Homo sapiens: one gene and its partners. The protein of the gene in region 4 purifies or fractionates together with the protein of the main gene of each other region. This does not show direct contact. Each region holds a gene or a part of one and is shown on either strand. Other genes may lie near its edges. The genes, in order: NRP2, TM9SF4, ITGA6 and TSPAN11.

What was found.
Region 1: the proteins of TSPAN11 (region 4) and NRP2 purify together in Homo sapiens (affinity purification with mass spectrometry; 2 studies listed by BioGRID and IntAct, with this or other methods). This does not show direct contact.
Region 2: the proteins of TSPAN11 (region 4) and TM9SF4 purify together in Homo sapiens (affinity purification with mass spectrometry; 2 studies listed by BioGRID and IntAct, with this or other methods). This does not show direct contact.
Region 3: the proteins of TSPAN11 (region 4) and ITGA6 purify together in Homo sapiens (affinity purification with mass spectrometry; 2 studies listed by BioGRID and IntAct, with this or other methods). This does not show direct contact.

The regions. Positions count from the first base shown.
Region 1 is NC_000002.12:205,685,501-205,692,523, forward strand, and holds part of NRP2 (neuropilin-2 isoform 2 precursor), read left to right. Parts: intron 1-7,023.
Region 2 is NC_000020.11:32,105,097-32,112,713, forward strand, and holds the start of TM9SF4 (transmembrane 9 superfamily member 4 isoform 1 precursor), read left to right. Parts: upstream 1-4,617; 5' UTR 4,618-4,644; coding exon 4,645-4,659; exon of another isoform or gene 4,660-4,943; intron 4,944-7,617. UniProt on the Homo sapiens protein: Associates with proteins harboring glycine-rich transmembrane domains and ensures their efficient localization to the cell surface.
Region 3 is NC_000002.12:172,423,264-172,430,595, reverse strand, and holds the start of ITGA6 (integrin alpha-6 isoform b preproprotein), read right to left. Parts: upstream 3,011-7,332; 5' UTR 2,808-3,010; coding exon 2,626-2,807; intron 1-2,625. UniProt on the Homo sapiens protein: Integrin alpha-6/beta-1 (ITGA6:ITGB1) is a receptor for laminin on platelets. Integrin alpha-6/beta-1 (ITGA6:ITGB1) is present in oocytes and is involved in sperm-egg fusion.
Region 4 is NC_000012.12:30,957,729-30,964,751, reverse strand, and holds part of TSPAN11 (tetraspanin-11), read right to left. Parts: intron 927-7,023; coding exon 735-926; intron 1-734.

The DNA of each region.
Region 1 (7,023 bases), on a different chromosome or scaffold from region 4:
AGGAGCAAGATGGGGCAGAAGGTGCGCGCGGGGGAGCAACTGAGCAAATAACACGGCGGTCGCGGCGCGCGGCACCTTGGGCTGGCGCGTGGCTGGGAGGCCGCATGGGCGACGCGCACCAGGCTGCCCCTCTCCTCACTGCGCCGCCTCGCCAGACCGCAGTGCAGCCGCTAGCCTGCCTCCCTCCCTGCCCCGGGCGCCCCCGCCAGTCCCCTGCGCTCCGCTCTGCGCGGCAGGCTCGCCGCGACCCCTAGAGAGACGGCTTTGAGTGGCGGGAGGCCGAGGCCGGCTGGCTTGGGAATCCAAGCGCTGGCCCAACTAGGTGAGAGGAAACTGGGGTGGGATTTCGGAGAGGAGGGCGGAGAGAGGCGGGAAGGAACCAGCTTGAGCCCCAGGAATGCGCGCAACTTGCACAGCCTCTAGAAGCGCCGCGCGCCCAGCGCCCGCCGGTGCGCAGGAACAGGTGAAGAGCACGCGGCGTGCGGCCATCCACGTGGTGGGGACGTGATAGCCCCTCAGCTCTCCTCCTAGCCCTCCCTCCCCTTCCCCGCCCCCCAGCGCCTTCTCTAACGCCGCATCGATTTGTTTGGGCTACGCAGCAGAAACAGAGCCCAGCGATCCATAAACATTCTATTAAGCAAAAATATTCCCAGCGAAAGCAAAACCGAGGCTGAAGCCTCCGCGAAGTTGGCCGCCTCCAACTACTCCATGCTTGTGCCCTCCTCCTCCTCCTCCTCCTAAGGACACCCCCAGGGAAAAGCCTGCGGCATTTCTTCAACGCTGCCCTATGCCGGAAAGTTAGGTCTCGGCTGCAGCGCTGGTCTCTGGAGAAGCCTCTGCCTGCAGCCGCCGGCGAGTTCCCGCCTCCCCTCCCCAGCCGCCTCGCTCTTTGCTTTTCCACGTGAGAAAAAGAAATGTTCACGGCCGATGCTTCATTTTCACTGATTGATTTCTTTTTAATATCAACACAAGTTAATGGAGGCAAGGCGCGCTCTGATTGAAGGGCTGCCCCCGCCCTTCGACTCGGGCTGGCTGTGCCGGGGGTCTTTCCCACCGGGTCGCAGGCGTCCAGCGGCTGGGTGGCGGGCGCCGGTAGCCCTAGTGTTTGGAGGTGGGGGAGGGATTTGGAATAGACTTGTCGCCCCTCTGGGAATCATCTGGGTTGGGGAACCTTCGGGAATCAGCTTTCCAGACCAAGTTTTAGGGGATCTTGCCCATATGCGTTGCGGCTTCTGCGGCTCCGGCTGAATTTCTTCTAAAAGATAGGAGATCCACGCTCAGGTTTATTGGCGTGTGCTCCCTGCTCGGCTCCCCTCCCTCCACTTCCTGTTCTTTCGGTTTCAGACAGAGAGGAGAGCCCCCTGGCGCTAGCCATTCCCGATCAGCGCCCACTACGAACGTCCCCTTTGCTAGAGTTAATCATGATCTGCGGGGGGACTGGGTTTTGCTCAGAAAATCATTCAAGTCCTGACAATGGGTTTCTTCAAATGGTGGCAACTCCCAGGCCTAATGTCCCCACCTCCGGGACACATCGCTTGGGGCCAAAAGAACCCAGACCCCATAACCATCTACCCCTCCCCTCCTCGTCTGGAGAGCTTTGATCTATGCTTGGGTTTTAACGCCATTGCCATGGACACGCGCAGATTCTCGGTCAATTCACCCTTCCGTCTGGACTGGATGATCAGATAAGAGGTGTAAATTGGCTGTGGGAGACAGGTCTGGGTTCAGACAAATCCTGAAAGAGAAGCAATGACGGTCTAGGCGCCGGATAAGGGTTTGAAGTGTTTCTTTTAGCCTGTCTCCCCAAAATGTGAGATGGCCATTGGCGAGCATAATAATTTGCAAGTAAACTGTAAACTCCTAGATTTTACGCAGACGGCCTGCTCTGGGCTCTAGGGATTGGTCTCATGCCCACATTAAATGGGTACCCAGTAAACATTTTTCCCCCGTGATCAGCTCCTGGAGGTAGGGAAGCTGTGGCCAGTTGCCAGCAGAGCACACAGTGCAAGACAGTGGCAAGAGGAGCACTCCCCAAAGGGCCCCGGGCAGGCCCCTACTCGTCCAAGCGGTGCCTGGTGGAATTGTGAATGCGCCAGTGCACATCAGGTTTGGAGTTTTATGTCATCCCATAGAGCCCTCAGACATTAAGCTACGGAGCACTCAACTGGCAAAATGAAAGATTGGAAGGCTGCAGTGACTGGAACCCAGGCTACCCAGACAGGACTCCTGCTGTCTACCAAATGGCTCTGATCCCCTGCTGTTGAATGTATCAAGTCCACGTTCTGCAGCAGAAAGGCCAGTTCCTATCTTCCAGGCATAGAAAAAGCTAGGAATCCAAATGCCAATTCATATGCAGTGAGGCACGAATACAAATGACAGTGAGGGAGGGGTCTGGGGTCAGTGAGGAGAGACACCAGGGACCAGATGATTCTGGGGACCCTGGTGTTTTTCATTTCACTCAAGTCTTCCCTAAAGCAATCAGGAAAATGAACTGACTCAGGATGACCTGAGTGTAAGACAATTCTGAGTTGACAGAATTCAAGAGCCAGGTAAAGAGGTTTCCAAATATATTCTCCAAAGGTCCAGTTTGGAAAGACTTTAGGAACTTGAGCTGAGATCTTCCTTTCTTAAAAGATAGAGCAAAAGAAGAATATCTTTTTAATTTCTTGAACTGACAAGAAAGGACTTGAAAAGTGTCATCTGGGCAATGGCTTGTAGTGTTATTAACATATTTGAGGTATTTTATTATCTGACCATCACTTGCAACTGGATAATCTTTGAGATACCTTCCTTGAGTGGCAGATAAGTATATTGATCACCAGAAGTTAGTCTTTGTACTGTTCCTTCCAGGTAAGGACTTGGCTGTTTGCTGATTTTTGTTTTTTAATTAACCCATTTCTGGAAGATGCTGCAGAAGTTTGTCCTGGAGAGCTACAGTATTTTTCAAAGCTTTATCTGCCTTGATGAGAAATGGTCAGAGGCTTAATGGTTTCATTGCCTAACAGGATTCAGTGGAGTAGGATTCCAGGACACAGTGGCCTTGTATCATGGCTGGCCCTCCAGGAGAAAGCATCTTCTAAAGGTTTAGGAAGCTGTCAAGTTTAGATAAGGCTGAGCTCCGATCCTCTGGGACCTTGGTTGTATTAATAAGGAGAAATTAATTTTTAACCACTGGGAACATTGCCAAATTATGTGACCTTTGGCAGACCAGCTGTGCTATAAAAATAAATCCCCCATTTCTGAAAATGCTACTCCTATCCAGTAGAACAATAACAATGTGGCATTTAGGATAGAGAAGAGTAGGATTGAGAAGAAAGGAGAGAAATAGGAGTTGGCAAAAAACAAAAAAACAAAACAAAACAAAAAAAACAAAAAAACCCTTCGATGTTGTGATACATGGTTTCAGACCTGAACTTCCTATCCATCACCCGCCCTCCCCGGCCCCATGCCTAGGGTTTCCAGAACACAGGAAAGAGGGCCAGGATGACAAGGAGCTGAGTGCCTGTGTGTACAGGGAGTGGAGAAGGTGTTAAGTGCTTCCAGCCCACTCACACCCCAGCCTCAAACACATCTCTCATTGTTCACACAGACAGAGTACTGGCACAGGCAGAGAAAAGGGGGTTTTCAAACAGGCAAAATATTTGTCTTTCCCTAAATGCTACCAAGTAGGTTTGCCACTGAGAAGTTTTGTGGGGATCATCCCTGGCCTTCCCAGCTTCTGAAACATGGGAACTAGACTGCCTGGGTTTAGAATCTAGCTCAGCCACTTGCTGGCTCTGTGATCCCAGTATCCTGTGTGATCAGATACTTAGTCTATGTGCCTCGGTTTCCTTGTCTGTAAATGTGTTTGGTAACAATACCTACTTCATAGGGTTGTTGGGCTATGTCAGATTATGTAGAATACTGTTTGGCACATATGAAGCCCATTCTGAAGTCACTGAATCTTTAAAACTGTTTCAGTGGGGTTAGTGGAATCTCGTGATCGTAGAAAGCACACTATAACCATTGTGGTAAGTTGATTTTTATGAGATTTAAAAAATAATTCTTATTCTCAGTTCTTCCACCACCAAACCTCTGTGTTTTGTAAGCACCATATTATCTCTCGCCATGCTCTTCTTCAGAGAATATTCTCTGCTGAGTTCTTATCTTAGATTTATGTCTCCCTTGCATTTTTTCCCTCCTTCTTCCTCTGTTTTCAGTATTCTTACCTCCTATTTTCTTTTTAATCTCTCATTTCCTTTCCTTTTCCTCCCCTTCCATCCTTCAACACTGAGAGTGTGCTCAGCAGGGAACACCGTGTTTAAGGCGCTCTCCCGAATGTGTAATAACTTCTACTCTGGCACTAAGGCCCTTCAGCAGCTGAACTCAAAAAAGTCATCATAAAGACAAAATAGCTTTTACCCAGCAAGGGTCTTAATAATCCCATTTCCCTCTGGGTCTTCATAAAGGAGTCATTATCTAATCCAGAAAAAAAGGAGGGGCTGGGAATAACAAAAGAGAAGCTCTCGGTAGCACAGAGTGCACGAGGCTGCCGGCCAGCTGAGTGCACGTGGCCGTGGTACCCTGCTCCCGCCTCCACAAATCCTGCGATAACCAGTAACCAGTTCTGGCGAGTCTTTCAGCAGAGAAGATAATGGGAATTGCAAATTACTAGACCGAATGCTAATAATAATTGTTTGGATACAGGAGAAAAAATAAAACAGATGTTCCCCAAAGGCATTCTAGGGGCTACAGAAAGGAAAATGAGGAGGGGGTTGAGTAAAGAGAGGTTTGCTGAAACCAAGCACAAGAAAATCCAATACCAACAAATGGCTTAGTGATGAAGTAATAGTCAGCATCTTCCTGGTGGTACAGATAACCAATATTTAAAGTTGCCTTTGGAAGTGTGGGGGTTGGAGTGAAGGGGACAAAACCCCTGAGATAAATTAATTTTACTAGTATTAAAAATAAAATGGCCGAGCATGGTGGCTCATGCCTGTAATCCCAGCACTTTGGGAGGAGGAGGTGGGCAGATCACCTGAGGTCAGGAGTTCGAGACCAGCCTGGCCAACATAGCAAGACCCCATCCCTGCTAAAAATACACACACACACACACACACACACACACACACACACACACACACACACACAATAGCTGGGTATGGTGGTGGGCGCCTATAATCCCAGCTACTTGGGAGGCTAAGGCAGGAAAATCGCTTAAACTTGGGAGGCGGAGGTTGCAGTGGGCCGAGATTGTGCCACTGCACTCTAGCCTGGGTGACAGAGTGAGACTCTGTCTCAAAAAATAAAATAAAATAAAATAAAATGTGAATGTGCTTTGAAATTTATCATTATTATCTGCTTTAGGGTGTTCTAGGAGACATAGTTCGCACTAACTCTACCTTGACCTACTTGTGACTAGGTATTATTATCCCAGACAAGTTATTCAAACTCTCAATTCACCACTAAGAAACATTTGCACTTAATAACAGCTGGGGGTGGGGAGGGAAGCGCAGTAGCTGTGGCCGCAGAATAATTTCTGATAGAACTCTCAGAGTCTGTCCTATCTAGTGATACCTTTGATGTTCCTTTGGTCACTTCTTAATTGGTTAATTCACCAAATCTTGATGAGTCTGACTTTTGGGAAAGGTTCTGGTTTGATCCTGTAAGACTTGCCAAAGATGGATCAGCAAGGAGTCATGACCTCAAGTTGCTGGTGGCTCAGTAGACTGGATGAGGCCCTCCAGAACTCTCACACATCTCAGAAGATGCTAAAGAGCTTCAGCCTCTCAGATGCACAGAGGAGAAAGACCACTCCCAGTATGGGAGAGGAGAAAGGGCAGAGGCAGCCTGGAGTGAGAGAGTAGGTGGGATTTAGAGCAGGGAAGGGCATACCAGGGGAAGGGGAAGGTGTGAGTAGAGAAATGGATGCTGGGTTGGTTTGGGGAACACTCAGAAGCTGCAGTTTAGAATGTATGGTGGGAAATAATTGCAAACAAGATTATAAATAATAGCTTGGGCTCAATTCAAGGCCCAAATTGCTAGGCAAAGAGGTTTGGGTTTCACTTGCTAACCAATGGGGAGCCATTAATGTTTCAACATAAGCTTCAGTTAATCAAAATAAATGAAGACAATATTATATTACTTTTTTTTCTCCTTTGGTTTTTGGAGAGACCTCAAAATTATTCTTCTGTTTCCTTCCCCAAATGTCTCCTAAAATGGTCAGGAATTGTAATCCCAGATCTCTCATCAATGGCATCAAAATTGCATTTGCAATGAGGGCTGGAAAAGAGAGGACATAAATATAAACTAATGACATTATATCGGCTGCCCTATTGGAATTGCATTTGTTTATGATATAAGATGACAAATAATAAGGTTAACACAGGTGGCATGATTCGAGGTCAGGAGAGGTAATCGCATCAAACTTACATTTTACCGATTAAATGAGGCTTCATTTTTAGAATCTAGATTGAGGGGAGAGATGTTCAAAAGGCCCCATTTCCAGACCCAATTTCCAGTTCTCTCCTAAGTGAATTCATTGGAGGTGTTTTAAGAGAGGGAATTTGCTTCATTCTTTATTCATTTCCAAACTCATATGCTGGCTTCCTCTCCTGCTCTCTGCTTCCCTCTCTCCTTCCCTCCTAGATGGCCCTTTTATTCAGATTTTGAACTTTATCATTTCAAAAGTTCAGAAGGATTTCCATTTGCTGTGCCTTCAGGAGTGCATCATTCACTGCCACCAGTCTCCATAAATTGAGTAGATTGCATCCCTTCCCAGTTGCCTTAGGAAGTGGTCAAACAGCCACATTCCTGGGCTGATGGATTGGCTCATTTCTTCCCAGCTTAAGCCAAGATACAGATTTTATGAGACTGTCTTGTGACAGGCTGAAGTTGCTTTGAATAAAACAAAATCCAGCCTCAGCTCACAGAAATAATTCTTAAAACGCAGCTTATCCCGGGTTGGTGAGCAAAATTTGGTTAAAACCCTGAGCCAACGACTTAGATGATCTGGGTGAGGGATTTGAAGAAACTCCTTTTGGT
Region 2 (7,617 bases), on a different chromosome or scaffold from region 4:
AGGTGAATGGATAAACAACTTGTGGTATATTCACATAATGGGATATTATTCAGCACTAAGAAAAAAGAGTTGACCAGGTGCAGGTGCAGTGGCTCACACCTATAATCCCAGCACTTTGGGAGGCTAAGGTGGGAGGATTGTTTGAGCCCAGAAGTTTGAGACCAGCTTGGGCAACAAGTGGGACCCCCCCCCCCACCATATCTACAAAGAGTTAAACATTTAGCTGGTTGTGGTGGCATGCAACTGTGGTCCCAGCTACACAGGAGGCTGAGGCAGGAGAAACACTTGAGCCCAGGAGATTGAGGTTGCAGTGAGCCGTGATTGTACCACTGCACTCCAGCCTGGGCAAGAGAGTGAGACCCTGTCTCAAAAAATAAATAAATAAATAATATTGGCCAGGCACGGTGGTTCACGTCTGCAATCCCAACACTCTGGGAGGCCAAGGCAGGTGGATCACTTGAGCCCAAGAGTTTGAGACCAGCCTGGGCAAGATGGTGAAACCCCATCTCTACAAAAAATACAAATATTGGCCGGGCATGGTGGCAGGTGCCTGCAGTCCTAGCTACTCAGGAGGCTGAGGTAGGAGACCTACCCAGGAGGTCTAGGCTGCAGTGAGCCGTGATTGTGCCACTGCACTCCAGCCTGGGTGATAGAATGAGACCCTGTCTCAAAATAAATAAATAGCGGGGCACAGTGGCTCACGCTTATAATCCCAGCACTTTTGGAGGCTGAGATGGGTGGCTCACTTGAGGCCAGGAATTTGATAACAGCCTGGCCATCATGGCGAAACCCTTTCTCTACTAAAAATACAAAAAGATTAGCCGGGCTTGGTGGCAAACACCTGTAGCCCCAGCTACTGGGGAGGCTGAGGCAAAAGAATCACTTGAACCTGGGAGGCAGAGGTTGCAGTGAGCTGAGATTGCACCACTGCGCTCCAGCCTGGGCGACAGAGTGAAACTCTGTCTCAAAAAGAAAATTCAAAAATAAATAAATAGGCCGGGAGTGGTGGCTCACGCCCGTAATCCCAGCACTTCGGGAAGCCGAAGCGGGTGGATCACCTGAGGTCAACAGTTGCAGACCAGCCTGGCCAACATGGTGAAACCCCGTCTCTACTAAAAACACAAAAATTAGCCTGGCTTGGTGGCGGGCACCTGTAATCCCAGCTACTCGGGAGACTGAGACAGGAGAATCGCTTGAACCTGGAAGGCGGAGGTTGCTGTGAGCCAAGATCATGCCACTGCACTCCAGCCTGGACAACAAAAAGCAAAACTCCATCTCAAATAAATAATAAATAGATAAATAAACCTTTTAAAAAGTTATATATAATATTATATATATTTTATATTTATAAATATATAGTTATATACTTATATTAAACATAGATTATAGTTTACAGCTGCTGTGTTTCTATATCTTAGCTATTATGAATAGTGCTGCAATAAATACGGGGGTGCAGACATTGATTTCATTTCCTTTTGGATATATACTCAGAAGTGGGATTGCTGCATTATATGGTAGTTCCATTTTTAATTTTAATTTTGATGAACATTCATACTGTTTTCCATAGTGACCGTACCAATTTATGCAAGAGTTCCCTTTTCTCCACATCCTTGCCAATACTTATTATGTGTCGTTTTGATAATAATGGTTCTAAGAGGTGTGAAATGATTGCTCATTGTGGTTTCGATTTACATTTCCCTGATGATTAAGGATGTTGAGCACCTTTCCATTTACCTGCTGGCCATTTGTCTGTTTCCTGAGAAATGTCTGCTTAGATCTCTTGCCCATTTTTAAACCAGGTTATTTGGGATTTTTTGCTATTGAGTTATTTAAGCTCCTTATATATTTTGGATATTAACCCCTTATCAGATCGTTTTTGATTTGTAAATATTTTCCTCAGCTCTGGAGGTCACCTTTTTACTCTGTTGTTTCTTTTGCTGTGCAGAGCTTTTTAGTTTGATGCAATCCCACCTGTCTATTTTTGCTTTCGTTTCCTGTGCTTTTGGTGTCATATCCAAAAAATCATTGCCCAAGCCAATGTCAAGTTTTCCCTATGTCTTCATCTAGTAGCTTTACAGTTTCTGGCCCTATAAGTCTTTAATCCATTTTGAATTGATTTTGTATATAGTGTGAGATAAAGGTCCAATTTCATTCTTTTGCATGTGGATATTCATTTTTAGGGATGACGAAAATGTTCTGGAGACGGATGACGGTAATGATTGACAACTTTGTGAATGTAGTTGATTTCACTGATTTGTGCACTTAAAAATGATTAAAATAGTCAATATTTAGTTATGCATATTTTACAACAATGAAAAATATTTAGGCCGGGTCCAGTGGCTCACACCTGTAATCCCAGCCCTTTGGGAGGCCAAGGCAGGCAGATCACTCGAGGTCAGGAGTTCTAGACCAACCTGGCCAACATGGCGAAACCCCATCTCTACTAAAAATACAAAAACTCAGCCGGGCTTGGTGGCATGCACCTGTAATCCCAGCTACTCAGGAGGCTGAGGCAAGATAATTGTTCGAATCCGGGAGTCAGAGGTTACAGTGAACTGAGATTGCGCCACTGCACTCCAGCCTCGGCAACAGAGTGAGACTCCATCTCAAAAAAAATTTTTTTCAGAAAAAAAAGAGAAACTTGCCCATGTTATGGAGCTAATGAGTGGTGGAAATGCGTTCTGAACCCAGGCAGTCTAGTTCTAGGATTCTGGCATATGTCACCAAAAGAGATTGGGATATGAAAGGCCTTTAGGGAAAAATACAAAGCATGAGAAAAAAAATGGAAATACTAAAAAATAATAGGCCATTTATGGAGCTTTGCTCCTTATCAGTTATCTTTCTTCAGGCAGCTAGAAATGGTGGGAAACACTCAGGATCGAAGCTCTAGGAAAACTGGTTCCAAGTCTGGAAACTATGAGACTGCAGCAAATTCCCCCTAGTCTCTCAAGCTTCCTCCTCCTTGGGGTTAATAGCCAATCTGCCAATCTTCAGGATGGTTGTGCAGGTCACAAGAGTTAATGGGTGTGTGTTTCAATGATCTATTACTGAAATGATCTATAATAAACCACCCCACTCTAAAGCTGGGCTTAGCTGGGCAGTTCTTTTGGTCCACATGGTGTTCATGAGGTTATTCATGTAGCTGCATTCAGCTAGTAGCTCAGTGGGGGTTGGAATGTCCAAGATGACTTCAGTTACATATTATAGTGCTTAGCTGTAGTTTCTAGAATGTCTTGAGGAGTTGGCTGGGCCTCCCTCTCTCTCCAGGTGCCTTTCCAGCAGAGTAGCTACACTTCTTTATAACCAAGAAGGTAGAATCAGACGTTTTCAATCCTCTTAAGGCCTAGGCTCAGTACTGGCAGAATCACTTGTAGCACATCCTATTGGTCAAAGCAACCAACATGACCAGCCAGATTCAACAGGAGGTAAAACAGAGTCTATCTCTTGAGGAGAGAAACCGTATGCTCATCATGCAAGGACGGACAGAACTACGTGGCAGCCATCTTTGCAGAAAATCCACCACAGTGGTGCCCATAGGTGGGGATCAGAGTTCAACTGTCCCTTGCCCCCTAGAATTAGATAAAAAGAGTCTAATGAACTGTTAGCATAATGCTAAGTGCTGCAGCACACAAAATGCTCGGCAAGTGCTGATGATTATTATTAATCATTATTATTCTTTTAATAGCTTTTTTAAAACAGTCTAAGATAGCACTGGTACTGTATTCAGTTTAAAGTGATATACATGGGTCAAATGAACTTTGAGTTCTTTCCCAACCTTAATACCATGATTCTTTGAGTCTCTTTTTCACAGATTTGGAAACTGAGGCTTAGGAAGATTGCGTGACTTGTCTGGAGTCACACACTAAGCTAGTGCATGACGTCCACATTCAGAGATATCTCCCTCCACTGAATATGCTGGTTTTCACTCGTTCATTTAAAAAATAATGTATTGGGCATCTACCACAAGCCCAAAGGAGTATACATAAACATATACTGACAATTATTTATTGAATACATCCTATGTAATACTGTGTCACTGAATCCTCATCACAAGCCTATGATGAACCAACCCCCTTCCCATTTCACAGATGGGAATGAGGAAGAGCAAGGTAAAAAACGAACAAACAAAAAAACAGGGTCCACCCTCATGGGGATTACAGTCTACTAAAGAGGATATAGGATAGTCAAACAAATACTTAAAATCAAACAAATACTTAAATATATAATTACAAATTATTCTTGGAGTCGTACTGCTCTTGGAGCCCCAGTGCCCACCCTTTCCCTCAAATCAAGGTCTCAGGTAACCCTGGCAATGGGTCTTCCTGCCAGTAGTAAAGATGGCGCTGAGAGCACGAGCGCACTTTCGCACACCCCCATTACCCACAATGCAGCGGGAATAAGGGAGGCTCAGTTTCTGCCAGGAGCTAATATGGCTTCCTTAGTTACACCGTTCTCTCTCTTCACCTAATCAGCGACCTTACTTTCCCAGACCAGACTGTCGAGCAGGAGCTAAGACTCCTTTTCCCCTCTGCTGACCGCCACTACAGGAGCGGTTGAAGCCAGACGACCACCTTGTGGAGTTAAACTCCGTAACCAGGGAGCACCACTTCCGCTGACGTCATTACGGCGACACGTGGATCCAAGATGGCGACGGCGATGGTGAGTGAAGGAGACTCCGGGAGCGGGAGCTGGAGCGGGGCCCTCCGGGGTATCCCAGGATCTTCCAGCACCCCATGCCTGGCCCTGAGCCACCTCCGGGACCCCTGACTCAGGCCTGAGGGCTACCTCTGACTGGGCTTGTCTTCCCCGAAATCCACCTCCCTGGCCCTGCCCCTGCACTCAGGCTTGTGAAGGCCCCGAGTTTTGGGGGAGGCGCCGTTTCGGAGGAAGACCTCGGCTGCTGCCTTCGCCGGTTCCCATTCTACTTTTGGTCTCCGCCCACTGTGAGCCCCATTTTCCATTTCTCACCTCCCTGTCCTGACCCCTCTGAAGACCCCCTCCCGTTATTCTCATCCTTGCTCCTCCCCGTCACGTCCAGACCCTGCTCTCCCCGCCTCCCCACCATCATAACCAGTCCGCAGATGTGACCTCTCCTCTGACCACCCTCCCAGCCCAAGCGCTGCCTCAGATCCTTTTCAGAGCCCTGTCCTCACTTACACTCATAGCTGTCCCCATCGCGCACCCCCTTGACTGCCGCTACCCCAGAGCTTGCCTTCACCTACCCCACCCCCATCTTTCATCCCTAGAGGCTTCCCTGCCCTTCCTGTCTTCTCTCAGTCAACTCCCTGCCCCTCTCTTAGGGACCTTTTACCCTGTTGGTTCTCAAACTTTACTGTGCATAAGAATCTCGAGGTGTGTAGGGGGAGGCATGCTAAAAATGCAGTTTCCTGAGCAGCCCCACTCCCAGAGATTCTAATTCCATAGGGCTAGGTGATGCCCAGGAATCTGCCCTTTTATAAGCACTCTAGTGATTATATAGTGGAGGTGGTCTGTGAACTACGTTTTGAAAAACACTAATAGCCCCACCTCACTGCTCTCCTTCCCATTCCCCAACATGGCCACACAGCTCGTTAGGGATGAAGGCTCTTTATTATGAAGCTATATGTTGGGATGAAGTCTGTGTGTGGATGAGGGTGGAGGTAAAATAGCCATGCTTGGAAGTTGGGTCAGAGCTTGCGGGCTCCTGGTGCAGAACCTTGGAAGTAAATCTTTGAAGGACTGGCCCTTTTTCTAAAAGTTTAGTTCAAATTCTGCTTGTCAAGAGACCAGAACTAAAATTGAAGTCACTTAGTCCAGAATGATTTCCTGGGTCTTCCTGCATACTGCCTCCTCAGCAGATAATTTCGTCCGGGGAGTGAATGACAAGGAAGACTCAGAGAAAAGGAAATGACATTTGACTTTAGCAAAGGAAGATTCTGGCTTAAATAATTTGGTGTTGGTTTTCTCCAAACAGGGATATATTATTGACTGGTAGCAATTTTCCCTCCTTCTCTTAGCTGACTGAGAACTTACCTTTGTTTAATGAGGGATTCCTTATTTAGAACTTCAGAGGTCAGGTAAAAAGATTTCATGGCCTTACCTGGTTTCTGTGGTTTCAGACTTCAGGCTGAACCACGAGTGGGGCAAATCCTCAAAGTAGTATGTTGAAACCTACATATATGTATATATATTCTGGTACCACATTCAGAACAGAGATAGTGTAAGAACTTAAAAGGAAATCACACCCTCTCTTGCTATAAGGAAAACATTGAGTAAAGTGGTATTTACGGCACTGCACTGGGAAATCCCTGCCTTGTTCAGAGATTTTTAAGAGGTTATAAGCTAGCAATACATATATGTGGTACACATCTATTTAGTCAACAAATATTTGAGTACCAATTCTGTTCCAGGAACTAGGGATGTAGTTGTGAATTACAGGGTCAAGGTCCCTACACTTGTGGAGCCTTTCTGGTTTGAGGAGACAGGCAGTGAACAAGTAAATACGTGAACAAAATAATGTCACCAGTAGATGCTGTGAGGACAGCAAAATGAAGTGATAGTGATTAGGGGTGACTGGGTGACACAACTACTTTGGATTGAGTGGTCAGAAAGAAGTCTTCTCAGAGGAGGTGACTTGAGTTAAAACATAATTAACAAGAAGGAACCAGCCATGCAAAGAATGTTCCAAGCAAAGGAAATGGCAAGTGTAAGGGGCCGATGTGGAAGGGAGCTTGGTGTTTTTGAGGAACACACAGAAGGCTGGAGGGGCCGAAGCATGATGAGGGTTGGGGTAGGAGAGAATGATACAAGATGAAACTGGAGGGAAGCAAGAGCAACTGTTTTGAGAAGCATGCCTGGAAATGGGAAGGACTGCGGTCTACATTTTGTTGTCTGTGGATTGCATTTTGAAATAGTGTTGTATTAGGCTGCTTCCCCTTCCCATCCCCTTCAGGACAGTACTTGAAGGGAGCCAGCTTGTTCTCAGTTGGCACAGAGGCTGTGGAAAGGAGTTTGGATTTTAGTCTAAGCACAGTGGAAGGGACAGTGATTTTTGCCCAGCACAGTGACTCACACCTGTAATCCCAGCACTCTGGGAGACCAAAGCTGGGAGATCGCTTGAGCTCAGGAGTTTGAGACCAGCTTGGACAACATGGCAAACCCCTCTACAAAAAAAATACAAAAAGAAAAAATTAGCTGGGCTTGGTGGTGTGCACCTGTAGTACCAGCTACTTGCGGGGCTGAGGTGGGAGGATCACTTGAACCTCAGTGAGCCCTGATCACTGCACTGCACTCCAGCTTTGGCAACAGAGCGAGACCCTGTCTTAAGAAACAACAACAGGCCGGGAGCAGTGGCTCATGCCTGTAATCTCAGAATTTTGGGAGGCTGAAGCAGGCAAATCACTTGAGGCCAGGAGTTCAACACCAGCCTGGCCAACATGGCGAAACCCTGTCTTCTAAAAATACAAAAATTAGCAGGGTGTGGTGGCACACACCTGTAATCCCAGCTACTCGGGAGGCTGAGGCACAAGAATCGCTTGAACCCGGGAGGCGGAGGCTACAGTGAGCCAAGATCGTGTCACTGCACTGCAGCCTGGGTGACAGAGTGAGACCCTATCTCAAAAAAAAAAAAAAAACAAA
Region 3 (7,332 bases), on a different chromosome or scaffold from region 4:
GCACTATAGAAAATTTGAACTACAAACATTTATGATAGGTCTTCTATGATCGTGCTTTTATCTGACCGTCCCATGCATCTGATATTTTACTTCTCCTTCCTCAAAGTCCTCTGTTCATTAAACTCACTTTTGTTATAAGTCTAATTAAGACCTATTAAAGTTAAGTTGCTTTGAACATGGGTTTCATAAATATGACTGAGTTTAAAATATCATTACCCAAAAACAACCACCTTTGGCTTTACTCTCAGGCAATCTTAGAATCACAGAATGTTTAAGACACCTTGTAAGGTACCTGACACACAGTAGGTACACAATTACTGCTTTTTAAATGATCATTAACAGCTACCATTTAGTCAGCAAGTACCCATGCCAGACAGGCATTAAGCACTTTGCATATTATCTCTTAATCCTCATAATAACCCCAGTAAGCAGTAATATCTCCATTTTACAGATAAAGAAATTAAAGCTCAAAGTAAATTAACAGCTGCTAATAAAAGGCCGAGAAGGAATCTCAGCTTAGGTCTCTCTCCCACCAGGTCCCTGAAAGACCCCCACTGAGTTTTTCCATAGAGTTTAGGAAGCTGGTCCAGAAGTTTTCTCAGTCTTACTGGCTCTGCCATTTACACCCACATTCTTTACTGTCAAAGGTTGACAACTGACCTGTGCTATGGCCTGTGTGTGCTGGTTCTCCTGGGAAGACCAATGCTATTCCTGAAGCTGGAATAAAGCTTTACAAAAGCATGGAGGTGGGCAGCACGTGACATAAACCACAGCCTCTTTAAAGTGTGGTCACTGCCTTTGGACTCTAGGAAACATACAGTCTCCTTATACGGGGCCTCTCCCCTCTGTCAGCTGCTAAGAAGAGCTTTCCTAGAAGGCATCAGACCCCATTGCAGGCTTATCCTTACCTCGGGAGGAGTTGCCTCAGCTCTAATACCAGAGAAGCCCAGCAGCAGTAACAAGTTTTAGCAAGCATGCTGCTAACCTTCACGACACAGATTCCTGGCAAAGTCACGTTTCGCAAATCTCCACTGCCAGGATATTTCTTGTCCCAGTACTTTCCCTTCACACTTTTTGCTTGAACAAGTATTTCAAGGAAGCCACCGGTTTCAGTGGGGCTCTGGTGCAGAGAGAGAATGCCCAGGAGAATGAATTCCCTCTGCTGGCCCACAATCATTTCTGCACTAACAAGCTCAAATTCTACACACCAAGTATTCCGAGACAATAAACGTCATCTATTAACTGAGTTAACAGGAACCTTTCATTTCAGATTTACAGCTTAACAACAATTATTTCTGAGAGAAAGCAGAGTATAAGCAGCTGGCCAGGCATATAGCCTCAGACCACCCTCCTAGAGCCTCCCCACCCCCAGCTAATTTCTGTGCTTCACCTAGCAGGTGTTATCAGAAAAAAAAAAAAACTGACTAAAATTCAGGGGCTGCAACATTCACGAATTCCAAAGTTGTTAACCGCTGAAATCAAGAGGTTTCCTCCAGTTCTAAAATCCCATTCGCCTCTCCTAAACACAAAATCTCTTCACTGTGGCTGCACTTTGCTTTCTCCGGTCTGTTGGTCCTGGAAGGTCCTTAGTTCAACTCAAGGCCTGGGTGGGGAGGGGAGACCTTTTGTTGCTACAGCCTATTTTTCAGTAGCACAGATGAAGAATGCAACCCCATAGCGATTAAGGCGACTAAGCGCCAAAATACCCTCTCCGGCTTAAATAGCCGATCATGTGGGAACCAAACACTGTTTAAGAAATAAAAGGAGAGGCCAGTAGTGCCGGTCTCCTCTTTCTCCTGGGAGGTTTACCGCTACGGTGGGGGGTTGTCCCTTACAAACCTTGTTTGCAAAGTCCAGGCTCAGATCGGACATTTTGCTTTAACCCCTTGGCTGTGCCCGCCCAACGCAGGAGCCGAGCGGGTCTCGGGTGCGGCCGAGTACTTTGGGGGCTGGGCACATCACTCAGACTTGTTTTCTCAGCTGATCTAGTCCAGCGAACAGGTGTTTGGTTAATTCCCGCCCCCACCCCCATCTTTTTTTTTTTTTTTTTCAAAGGCATGTAAAAGTATCTCCTAAGGAGCGCCCCCGCCTTGCTGAGAAAGTCATGCAGGACACATGGAAAGTGGCTTTCCAACTTGTGCGGGGCGCGCCAGTCTGCGGGGGAGACGGGGTGCACCGTGAGTTTGGGAAAGGCCTAGACCATCCTGGAACTACGCTCCCTGCAAACCCACAGCAGCGCTGCGGTGACCCTGAACGCCACCCCAGCCCCAAACACACACGTGAAGCTCAGCAAAGCGTGCCACCTGCCGGGGTCCCAGCAAACACGCCCGGAGGGAAGAACCGGCGGAAAGCACTTTGTTTAAAACAGAAAAAAAAGTAAACTCTCCCGGGGCCCAGCCTAGCCCTCGGGTTCTCCTCCTTCCCGAGCTGAATGGAGGGAGGCGCCGCGCGGGGCGGGTCAGGGCGGGGAGCCGAGCGCGCTGGGCGCTGGGTGCGCCTCGGCCGGCCCGGGCGCGACCCACGGGCCAACTACTCCCCGGGGCCGGCGGGAACAGGGCGCGCCCTCGCCTCAACTCGCGCGCAGGCCGGCGCCCCAGTGGGGGTGGGAAGGGTCTGGGAACTCACAGCCGCTTGTCCTCGGGCTGCAGTTGCCAGTGCATGGCCAGCGAGAAGCCGAAGAGGCTCCCGGGGTCTCCATATTTCCGGATCACGTTGTCCTCCCGAGTGTCCAAGTTGAAGGCTGCGCCGAGCCGGGACAGGAGCCCCGCCGACAGGTAGAGCAAGCACAGCTGCCCGGCGGCGGCCATGGGCGGACGCACGGGGAGGGGAGCGGGGACCTGCAGCGGCCGCCCTGCGCTCCGGGCTGGGTCCGAGGCTGCCGCGCTGCTGCTACCGCAGCCACCTTCGCCTCCTCTCGCCGCTGCGCCCGGCCCCACCCCCGGGACGGGTCGCGCTCTCCGTCCGGCCGCTCCCCCTCGCGGGCAGCTCGCGACCGCTGAATGAGCCCGTTGTTCTCTGGAGACTCGCAGGCGTTTTATCAAGTGACGAGGACGCCGGCCCCGCCCCTCCCCACCCTCTCGCCCCTCCTTGCGCGCCCGCGGCCCGGCGCACCGCCCGCACCTTACCCGCCGGCTCTGGCGTCTCCAGCTGCCCGGTACCTGCCCGGAAGCCACGACGTGGGAGCCCCGGAGGCGAGCTCGCGGCGAAGCAGCCCCACTGCGCCGCCCTCTGTGGACAGAATTGTGGTTGCCGAGTAGCACAGAGCGAGGGAGACTTTACTACCCGTTATAAAGAGAAGTGCAGGTGATGCACCGGGCCTCATGGCCTGAGCAGCCTGTTCTTGCAGATGTGGGCCCACGTGCAGATGCATACGTCATTCATTCATTTCTACAGGTGTTTATGGAGCGCTTAAGGCGTGCCCAACACTTGGGGACTACAGCTGTGTAGACTGTTCTGGGTCCTCAAACACCTAACAACCCTCAAAAATGATCACAGCGCACACCTTGATAGTGCTGTATAATGTACACAACCCAGCCATTACCTCAATTCATCCTAACAGTCCTATGAGGTAGGTGTTTCTTTTTGCAGATCAGAAAACCGAAGTTCCGCCTTGTCCCCAGATCACCTAGGATTTTGCCCAGGTGACCAGGAGAGCTTGTGGAAGAAGTCACGCAAGTCAAGGATGGGTTGTTTAAAGTGGCGCCAGGAGCTCAGGCGACGATGCCGTTCTTTCCTAGCCCCGGACTTTCAGAACTAGTTGTGGGGAGAACTGCTGGGCCAAGAGACAGCTCCGAGTTCTGTGTAGGTGGCATGAAGGCTCCTGCCTCCAGGACATGAGGCGGGGCTCCAGTGAGGTGTTGGCCCTAGGGGCAACCTTATCCTGCAGGGGTTCTTAACCCGAGGAGAGGTAATTAATTCAAGAGTACTGTGAACTTGGATGAGAAAAAATTTACGTCTTAATTTTCACCAACCTCTGACATTTAGCACGTTTTGCCATTATGAACGTAGACAACAAACTACAGTAGCAGTAGGATAAGTATTTATGACTTAGTAATCACTAGAAACCATAGGTTTTTACATCACATCACAGTTGTTGCAAGTATCTCAAATAACAGTAGTTATTAGACAATCAGCCAGATATTATATGTCAATAATGAAGCATATATATTGCTCTAGCACAAATTTTTAAAAACATTTTGTTAGCTACATTTCAATATTATTGGCTTTTTTTGTAACCTCTTGTGGTTTCTTTTATGTATTTAAAACCCTTATTCTGAGAAGAACCCCATGGTTTTCAGCAGCCTGCCAAAGGGGTCCCATGGCATGAAAAGGTTGGGACGTGCTGGCCTGAAGCCTTCTGGAATGCCTTGGGGAGCCCTCTTTGGAATCTGACATCCCTGCATTGGAAATACAAGCAGGGTGCAGCCCCAGGAAAGAGCAGGAGCTGTGTGTGCATAGGGGTAGGGGTGGCCTCTTCTTCACCTCAAGGAGTATTCAAGAGAACAGCATGTGCCACTCAGAAAAGCTGCGTGAACATCATCAAGGGTCCCCACAGGTGGTAGCAGCTGTCAGAGTAAGTCCGTCAGTATATTAGGGGTGTGTACCACTTCCTTTCCAATCAGTAACTCCAGTCAATTATAGTCCAAAGTGGGGTGCAGTGGTTTAAATTCAGTAGATGATTTTGGAGAGCACACAGTTTTAACAAATATATCTTGATAAGGTTGAGAAACTATTGGAGACAATCTAGTAAACTAAGAAGTACTTGCAACGTGATTTTTCATGCAAATAAGTTGCAAGTTAGCCTTTTCCCTTCGTGTAAAATATGTACTATTCCAGAGAGATGGGGTCCAGACTATTATAGGCATAGTATAATGAACCTCACTGCAGAGTGTACTCAGCCAGGAGCTGGTGATTTGGCTGTAATGGTTACTGAAATATTCTGAATTGGTTGATAAAAGCTGCTGCCCTTAGTTCCTCACAGGCAACCATCCCTGCCCTGCCCATTTTCCTAGGACTAAGCAACTTCCTCACAACCTGGCAAATGAAAGTTTAAGCCCTTAAGCCCTGATGCAGCAAGGGCTCCCTCTGCTTGGATATCCCCATGTCACACCAGCTGTTAACTATTCTGAATATCACCCCTTGCTTCTAAGAGTAATTCTGTGGACCATTGATTCCTGTCTTCCCAAGATGTGTTTAGTGGATGATGTATGAATGGCCAGAGTTATTTACTTTATCCCAAACACAGATTGTGCTCAAATTGAAATTCTAAATAATATTAAATTTAAATATCACAACTACATGTATAGCACTACTGAAGCAAATTATGCTTGTGTGGGAAGAGGTTCAGATAAAGAAAAACAAGGCTGGGAGTCTTGTTCTGGAATATGTCAAGTGCCCATCGCAAATGGAAAACTTATTAGCTCAGTGCTCCTACCTGCCACCTGTCTCCTACCTACTTGAAGTTGAGTCAAACTCTCACTCTCAACATAGATGCCGAAGATACTTGAAGTTGAGTCAAACCCTCACTCTTGACATAATTTATTTGAAGATTGTCAGCTCCTTCTGACTATAACCATCAAGTTTTGGCCAGGCACAGTGGCTCACGCCTATAATCCTGGCACTTTGGGAGGCGAGGTGGGAGGATCACCTGAGGTCAAGGGTTCGAGACCAGCCTGGCCAAAATGGTGAGACTCCCCCCCACCCAACCCCACCACCCCGTCTCTACTAAAAATACAAAAATTAGCTGGGTCTAATGATGGGCACCTCTAATCCCAGCTACTCGGGAGGCCAAGGCTCAAGACTCACTTGAAATGGGGAGACAGAGGTTGCAGTAAGCCAAGATTGCACCACTGCACTCCAGACTAGGTGACAGAGCAAGACTCTGACTCAAAAAAAAAAAAGAATCAAGTTTTGTGACTCAGTTGTTATTTCCATTGTAAAACAGAGTTGGGTGTTTTACAAAAGTGTCTTACAAAAAGGAGGTTTAGAGGTCATTCTGGATCCACTGAGGACACATCAATCTCTGGGGCCAAAGGAATAAAAGAATTCAGAGCCCTAAAAATTAAAGACCTGGGGAGGGAGTACACAGTTTTAATGGGGAAAACAAAATCTGGGACAGGAAGATACTTGTCTGGAACCAAAGGGAGAGAGATAGCTTGGTGATAAAGGTGTGCTGAGTATATAGGGCATGGGGCATGTGTGTGTGTGTGCTAGCACACATGCCTATGAAAACAAGACATGCACAGTGCAAGAAGGGCCCTACAAATCCAGTTAACTGGCAGAACCGTGTCTAAAAAAAAAAAAAAAGGGCCGATTAGAAAACGAAATAACACATCACAGAAGAAACTTCTATAAACTGAACATTTTTAATTAAAAGGCAGTGAAAGCTATGCATAGAGGCATTTGCTCAGGTGAGAGCTTTTGAATTCTTATGTTTTACCAGTACACTTTTCAAAATAAAATTATTTATTTGTACTATATCCCACCCTCTGTAGAAGAGCTTTCAAGATAATTTTAGAATATTGGTCATTTATGGAGAAGTCTGAAGAATCCATGTCATACCTAATATATTTTCCATTCCCTGAGACCTACTTTAATCATTTTGTTATCATGTTCACTGTTATATTGACTTCATCATCACTAACAGCAGAGAATATATTTGCTTTTTTCATGCAACATAAAAACTAGTTATTAGGCCGGACGTGGTGGCTCATGCCTGTAATCCCAGCACTTCTGGAGGCTGAGGCAGGCAGATCACCTGAAGTCAGGAGTTCGAGACCAGCCTGGCCAACTTGGCGAAACCCCATCTCTACTAAAAATACAAAAATGAGCCGGGCGTGGTGGAGGTGCCGTAATTTCAGCTACTCAGGATGCTGAGGCAGGAGAATCGCTTGAACCCGGGAGGCAGAGGTTGCATTGAGCCGAGATTGCACCACTGCACTCCAGCCTGGGCAACAGAGCAAGACTCCGTCTCAAGAAACTAGTTAATGAAAACATCTCTTTATTCTCTTTCTGTGGTTACATTATCCCAACAGTTTTACATATTTCCTGGAGCCCTTTAATGTGAGGCCATCCATGAGAGTGGGTAGCACATGGTCTCTGGAACCCAAGTTCCTTATTACGGATCCTGCCTCTGCTCCACGCTAGCCACAAGGCCATTTAATCTCTCCATGTCTCCGTTTTCCCAGCTGTAAACCGGAAATAACAACATGTCATCTACCCCTCAGTAGTTGCTTTCTCTTAAGAATTAGTAGAGTTGATGTTATCTAAAGCACTTAGAATGTTGCATCAAAACCAGAGCTCCCACCTGTGTACAGTCTTTCAAGATACGGC
Region 4 (7,023 bases):
AATGACTGTTAATTGTTTTAAAGTGTGATAATGGTAATGTTATCATGTTTTCTAGAAGAGGGTCCTTAAGTTTAGAGATACACACTGAAACTCTAACAGATGACATGCTGTCTGGGACTGTTTCAGAATCACCCTGGGGTTAGGAAGTGGGCAGGGTGCAGGTGAGAGAGTGGACGGAACCAAGATCGGCTATGAGATGGTAATTGTTGAACTCTGGGTGAAGGGAAGATGGAGCTTCATGAAAAACACTCTTTATTTTTGCATATCTTTGAAAATTGCCATAAAAAAACCTAGAAAGAGGAAGAGGAAGAGGAGGAGGAAGAGGGAGAGGGAGAGGAGAAGGGGAAGTAGGAGGAAAAAGAGAATAAGAAGGAAACGGGATAAGGAGGAGGGGAAGGGTACAGAATAGGAGAAGGAGAAGGAGAGGACCAGGAAGAATAGGAGAAGAAGAAATAGAAGGAGGAAGAGGAAGAGGAAGAAGGGGAGTGAGAGGAGACAGAGATGGAGATACGGAGAAGGAGCTGCCACTGCAGCTACTGAGACGCCTGCTTGCTTGGGTCCTAAGAACCTGGAGACCGTGGCAAACCCCAGACCCAGGAGCAGCCACCCCTTCTCGGGCACTCCCACAGCCTCAGCCCCTCCCACTCCAGGGCTGGGGCCCCTCTCACTTGCTGGAAACCTGACTGGGTGGTGCAGGGCTCCCCATCCCTGCAGAGCACAGGGCGGGCACTGACCGTGGAGAGGCAGCCCTTCCGCTCCCAGAGGATGGCACCGAAGCCCAGGAAGCCGGTCACCATGACAAGTACGCCCGCAAAGATGAGGATGTAGGCGGAGGCGGCAAAGGTGCTGGAGGCCAGGACGCTGAGGTAGCCACTCTTCTCCACCAGGGTCCAGATGCCCACAGCCAGGACGGCTGCTCCCCCGACCTGCAGGAGACCACCGGGTTAGAGCAGGGGGTGGCGGGGGCCTCGGCAGCTGCTATCCGTTCAGTGCCCACAGGGTGCCAGGCACTTCTCTTGCACTGGCTCATTCAGTCCTCCAAAGGAGGCGAGAATGGTATGGTTACCCAATTTTACAGATGAGGAAATCGAGGCTGAGAGAGGTTAGGAGACTTGTCCAAGGTAAGCAACCTGCAGAGCCAGGTTTTGAATCCAGGTCCGACTGTGAATTCGGTGCTTTTTACCCTGGTGGCCTATTGCGTATGAGGCCAGGGGAGAGGACTGCAGTTTCAGGGATGATCAACGTATCTGAGTCCCTTTGCTTCTCCAACTTTTCACCTCCCCAACTCCTGCCACCCCTGGCTCCTATCCCTTCAGAGCACTTCTTCCCTCTGTCCGCACTTCCCTGGTGGGGCTCGTTCGAGCACCGCCCCTTGTTTAATCCTTATGTTTGCCCATTGGGGAAGCACAGCTGGGCTTTTTATCCCTACTCTACGAGGAAGAAACTGAGACCCACGGAGGAAAGGTAAATTGTCCAAGGTCCTGCCTGTAGTTGGGGGCAGGGTTAGGGGCAGAGACAGGAGGAGAACTCAGAGCCCAGGGCCTGCCCACTCAGTCACACTGCCTCCATGATTGAAGAGTCAGGGTTCTTGACAGGCTGGAGCCGCCTGGGACTGCAGGAGGAGAAACTTTTTTGCTAATTGTCTGATTCCCCTTTGGTCCTGAGAAGAGGGGAGGGATAGGACCCTCCTGATTTGCAGATAGGGGGATGCCTCCTTAGAAACTGGAGTACTTGGGAAATATAGCAGGGATGGCTCGGCTTGGCTGGTTCTATTTGCAATGAAGCCAAGTAACTCTTTCTGTGACTGTTGGACCCAGAAGGGCATAATGTGTGTGTATGCACACATGCACAGCATCTTCAGGGTGCCAGATGGGGAGTATGTGGGTGTTTGCCCAGGATTTGGGGACAGGACCCCTGGGACCTCTGACCGTCTCTGCCATCTGCTCCTGGGAATGTGGACTTCTGCCCGCTAGTCTCCCTGCCCCCATTTAAGGATGGGTCTCTTTTCTCTAATGGGTGTGGGATGCTTCCTCAAGGAGTCCTGGGCGTGGTCAAAGCTAGAGAAGTGCCCTGGGCTCTGTCCATGCCCCCTGAGCCTTGTCACTGAAAGGAGCTCCCCATCTGCCCCAGGAAGACTCCATATAACCTACCCTGTCATTTCCCAGTTCTCTGTTCTGGGCAGTCACAGACATCCGTTGAGCAAACGAACATGTATTTACCATTTTCTCTTCTGAGCTTTGCAACAGCTCTGTGAGCATGGGGCAGGGTGGCAGGGCACATATTCTGCATTTTGCAGATGAGGAAATTGAGGCTTGAAGAGAATAAGACTGTGCCCAAGATTACACCATGAGTTTTAGAATTGAGATTCAACCCCATGTCTCCTGAGAGCAAATCCAGGACTCTGTCCCCAGATCCCACAGACTGGGCTGGGCCTGCTCCTCTACTCTGTGTTTTTAATAGATACTATTTCTTCAAAGTGCCATTTAATCTCCATTGGCACCTCCACCAGGTGGAAGAGCCAGGTGGAAGGACACCATCTGGGCTACAGCAAACAGAATGGGAGTGGCTATCACGCAGATTTCTTCAATTCCGTGATGCACACATTTTTCTCTCACATTTTAACATCTCTAAAATTGGGATGTATCTTATGACTGATGGTATTTTATAATTGTACTTGGCAGTAGTTTTTCTTAGTGGTACAAAAAACAATAGTGTGTCTTACCACTGATGATATCTTAGATTCAATGAAATCCTAGAATAGGTTTTAAAATTATCTGTGGGTATAGGTTATCTGCGGCTCACACAACCTCCATGACCAGTGAGGGATTTCCTGAGTTTAGGTCAATAAAATTGTGTAATGTGAGGGTTTGCAGCCAAATATCCTGCACGGAATTCTTTTTGCCCCCTTCAGCATGCCTGGAAGGCTTGGGTGAGGGTCCCAACTTTGCATAACTAGCGGTGTGACCTAAACATAGTCCCTTAACCTCTCCGGACCTCAGCTTCTTCATCTCTTAAATCAGGGAGTTGTATTAGACCAGTGGTTCCCAACCTGTAACTACTGGGAACCCCTTTGATTACTTTTCCCCAGGATCTAATGTTTTGAGAGCCTCCACCCCGTCCCAGTCCTTAGGCTTAGCTGTAAGGAATGAGAGGGTTTCATTCCTTTGGAAGACCTGCTTGGGACATGGTCATCTCTTTAGAAAACAAGCTTTTCTCTGGACAGGAAAATTAACACTGCTCACTGTTGGATGGGTCACCAGAGGGGGTCACGGGAGGGCAGAAGTCAGCAGCCTGGGTTCTAGTTCTGACTGTGTCCCTGACTAACCACATGATTGTGGGACAGATATGCAGCCCCTCTAAGCCTCAGTTTCTTCATCTGTAAACTGGGGGCACTGGATGGGACCATATCTGAGGTCCCTTCCATATGGTTAAACTGTCCCTGCTGGTACCAGAAGTCAAGCTTCTGTCAAAGAACCTCCGGCAAGATGGTTCTGAATTAATGGCTCATGGCTGTCACTCAAGCCGCCTGGAAACTGCCTAAGTCAGCAGAAAGCAGCAGAAGAGGCAGGAAGAGGGACTTGATGGAGTGGGGAGAGATCTGACCCCAGTGAACTATTCAACAACCATTGGCATACAGTTGATTCAACAGTATTTGGCTCTTTACAGAATCTAGCGTGGTTTTCCATGAGGGTAATAACTACATTTTTCTTTTTTTTTTTTTTCCTCGCTCTGTCGCCTAGTCTGGAGTACAGTGGTGCGATCTTGGCTCACTGCAACCTCCACCTCCCAGGTTCAAGCAATTCTCCCACCTTAGCCTTCTGAGTAGCTGGGATTACAGGTGTGCACCACCACGCCTGGCTAATTTTTGTATCCTTAGTAGAAAGGGGGTTTCATCAAGTTGGTCAGGCTGGTCTTGAACTCTTGACCTCAGGTGATCCACCTGCCTCGGCCTCCCAAAGTGCTGGGATTACAGGTGTGAGCCAGCGCGCCTGGGCAATAACTACATTTTTCAAAGCCATAGCCTGTGGCCGACTAGCCAGCAAGCCCTGCAGAGGGTGAAGCCAGGCGACAAGGATGCAAGCTGGCCAGGAGGGGCGGAGCAGGTCACCCCTGTTGTGTAATTTTAGGAACTTTATGTTCATAGGAAAGAAACATGATGGGGTGAAGCATTAACCTGAGTGGCTGCACATGCCTGAGGGGCCGAGAGAAATAAGGCAGCAGACCTGGAGGAAAGCAGGCAGAGGGTATAAAAGTAAATGTAGGCGTTTTTCTTTGTCTCGCTACCATAGGGCTTCTGCAATGAAGGAAGGAAAGGGATGGGGCAGGAGCCAGGAACACTTGAATCCCAATAAGGAAGGATCCTCTGCGGAGGGGAGTTCTCCACCCTCAGTGAGGAGGAGCCCATGGCTCAGGATGCGGGAAATGCACAGGGTGATGGGAAGTGTACAGGGTGATAGTAGACTTTGTGTTTACTGGCCACCTGCTACATGCCAAGCCCCACACTGGACTGAAAAGTCTCTGGGTTGGACAGGAGCTCACCCATGGGAACCACACTCATCATCTGTGCTCCTCCTCCCTGCTCAGTCTCATACATGGCGCCGCGCCATCACCCACCCACCCACCCACCCACAGACACCACAGGGTCACTGTAGGCTCCTCCTTCTCTCAATGACAACCATGTGCCAATTCCCCTCTGCCCTCAAACCTGTCTCCATCTCCCCGCCACACTGTCCACCTCGGTTCCCCACCTCAGTTGGCTCCCGGCTCCTGGCTCCTGTTCCGCCCACAGGCTGATCCCCCAAGGCACCCCCGGCTGAGAAGTCCCCACCAGCTCCCATGCCCCAGGCACCAAGCCCAAAAACTCTTTTGCATGGCCTCGGTGCTCTTACTGTCTGGCCTTAACCTGACTTTTTGGCATCATCTTCTGGTACTTTCTTCCCCCCACACCTCGGTTTTTTTTTTTTTTTTTTTTGAGACAGAGTCTCACTCGGTCGCGCAGCCTGGAGCACAGTGGCGTGATCTCGGCTCACTGCAACCTCCGCCTCCCAGGTTCAAGCGATTCTCCTGCCTCAGTCTCCTGAGTAGCTAGGATTACAGGCACGCGCCACCACGCCTGGCTAATTTTTGTATTTTTTTTCCTGGGTTTTAATCACTTTGAACTAAGTAGTTGCTTCTTCTTGAAAACAGTGTGGTTACCTAGTAACTCAGGCACTATTAGCAGAGTGGTAAACAGCGTGAACTCCAGGGCGTGGCGCGGTGTCCGAGTCCAAGCCTTCTGTTTACTGGCTGTGTGGATTTGGATAAGCAACACAGCCTCTGTGGGCCTCAGGGAGGCTCTCTCTTTTTCCTGCCCACCTTTCACGCATTGTTCTCTCTGCCCTTTCTCTTCCGTTGAACTCCTACACACCCTCTAAGGCCCATTTTGAGATTTTGAGTGTGGCACCTGCTCTGTCCTGGGCAGGTGAGTTCATCCCTCTCCTGCATGCCTGTGGTGCTGCTCACCTCACAGCAGCCCTTGACACTTGGGGCAGGGAAAGTCCCCTCACTCCCCTCAGAACGCGGCCCAGCACACGGCCTGGTACCCGGGAGCCGCCCCAGTGAGTGTGAGACTCAGTGGATGAGGCTCTGTAGAGGGCTGTGGAAATGGCATCTGCTCCCCTACCTGCCTCTGTCTGCCGAGCTTCTGGGGCAACAGCTAGTGTTTCTCTTTCCTGCTTTATGGCTGTTTTGATTTTTAAAGGGGCAGTCCACAAAGTCCCAGTAGTCCCAGAGAGGAATAGGCTTTTTCTCTGGGTCATTAAGAAGAGGCTCCTGGAAAGGCTGGGGTTGCGCCCTCGGTATCTTAAGGTCAGACTGATGCTTGGTTACTCTCATACTTTCTTTCAACCAATACCCACTGTGCACCTGCTACAATGATGCCACGCTCTTGGGCCATCAAGGGACCCATGCCTGACACTGCCACTGCCCCTGCCCCTGCCCCAGGATCACTTGTAGGACACTGGGTTGAAAGACCTGACTTAGTAACCACCAGAGTGACTTCTGCTATGACGGAGAAGTGAATGGGTCTAGTTTGGGGAGCAAACACAGCATGGGGGCTCAGGGAGAGGACTGGGAGACCAGGTCTGAACAAGACTCAGTTTCTTTTACAGAATGGCTTCCCATTCCCACATCAGAAGAGTCAGCTGAACCTTAGACTGCAGCCCCGAGAGAGCACAGCTGAGCCCTATACCCACATGCAGGCAGGGTGGACGGCACCCCAGTCCCACGCCCAAAATGCCGAGCTCTCCAGGAGGGCACATGAAAGCGTGCATCAGGTGCTGCTGCTCACCCTCCTCATGAATGACCTTCTCTGAGTGCCAGGCATGCATTTCTCCCCAGCTCTGCCCATGCTCCTGCTGCCTTGGTTTATGGAATCTTCAAGGATAGGCTTGTTATGCTAAGGGCTATTTCCCACTTTGAGGCATCCTTGTTTTTGGCTTTCTGGCTTTAAAGAGCCCTTGATAAAATAAATCAGAACACTACCTCCTCTGCTGTCTTCCCCAGTCCCATCTACCCCTATAACAAGAGCAAAATCTCATGAGTCTTACTGAGGGGTGGAGCTGGGAGGGAACATGAGATCACCTGTTCATCTTCCAAACCCAGCTCAGAGCCCAGAGGAAACCTTCCTTGGAGCTGTCCCTGCCCCCCTCTCCCAGCAAATCATTCTGTCCTCTGTACCAACTCCAGGTCTTGCACGTTTCCATAGTTACACTCATACTCTATTTATTTTATTGGTTACCTTGTGTGCCTCCTCTTTTAGCCTCTTGATTAAACTTCGTTCATCTTAATATCCCTAGCAGAGGGCTACACATGTAAGGAAGGAAGGAAGGAAGGAGGGAGGGAGGGAGGGAAGGAAGGAAGGAAGGAAGGAAGGAGGGAGGGAGGGAGGGAAGGAGGGAAGGAAGGAAGGAGGGAAGGAAGGAGGGAGGGAGGGAGGGAAGGAAGGAAGGAAGGAAGGAAGGAGGGAGGGAGGGAGGGAAGGAG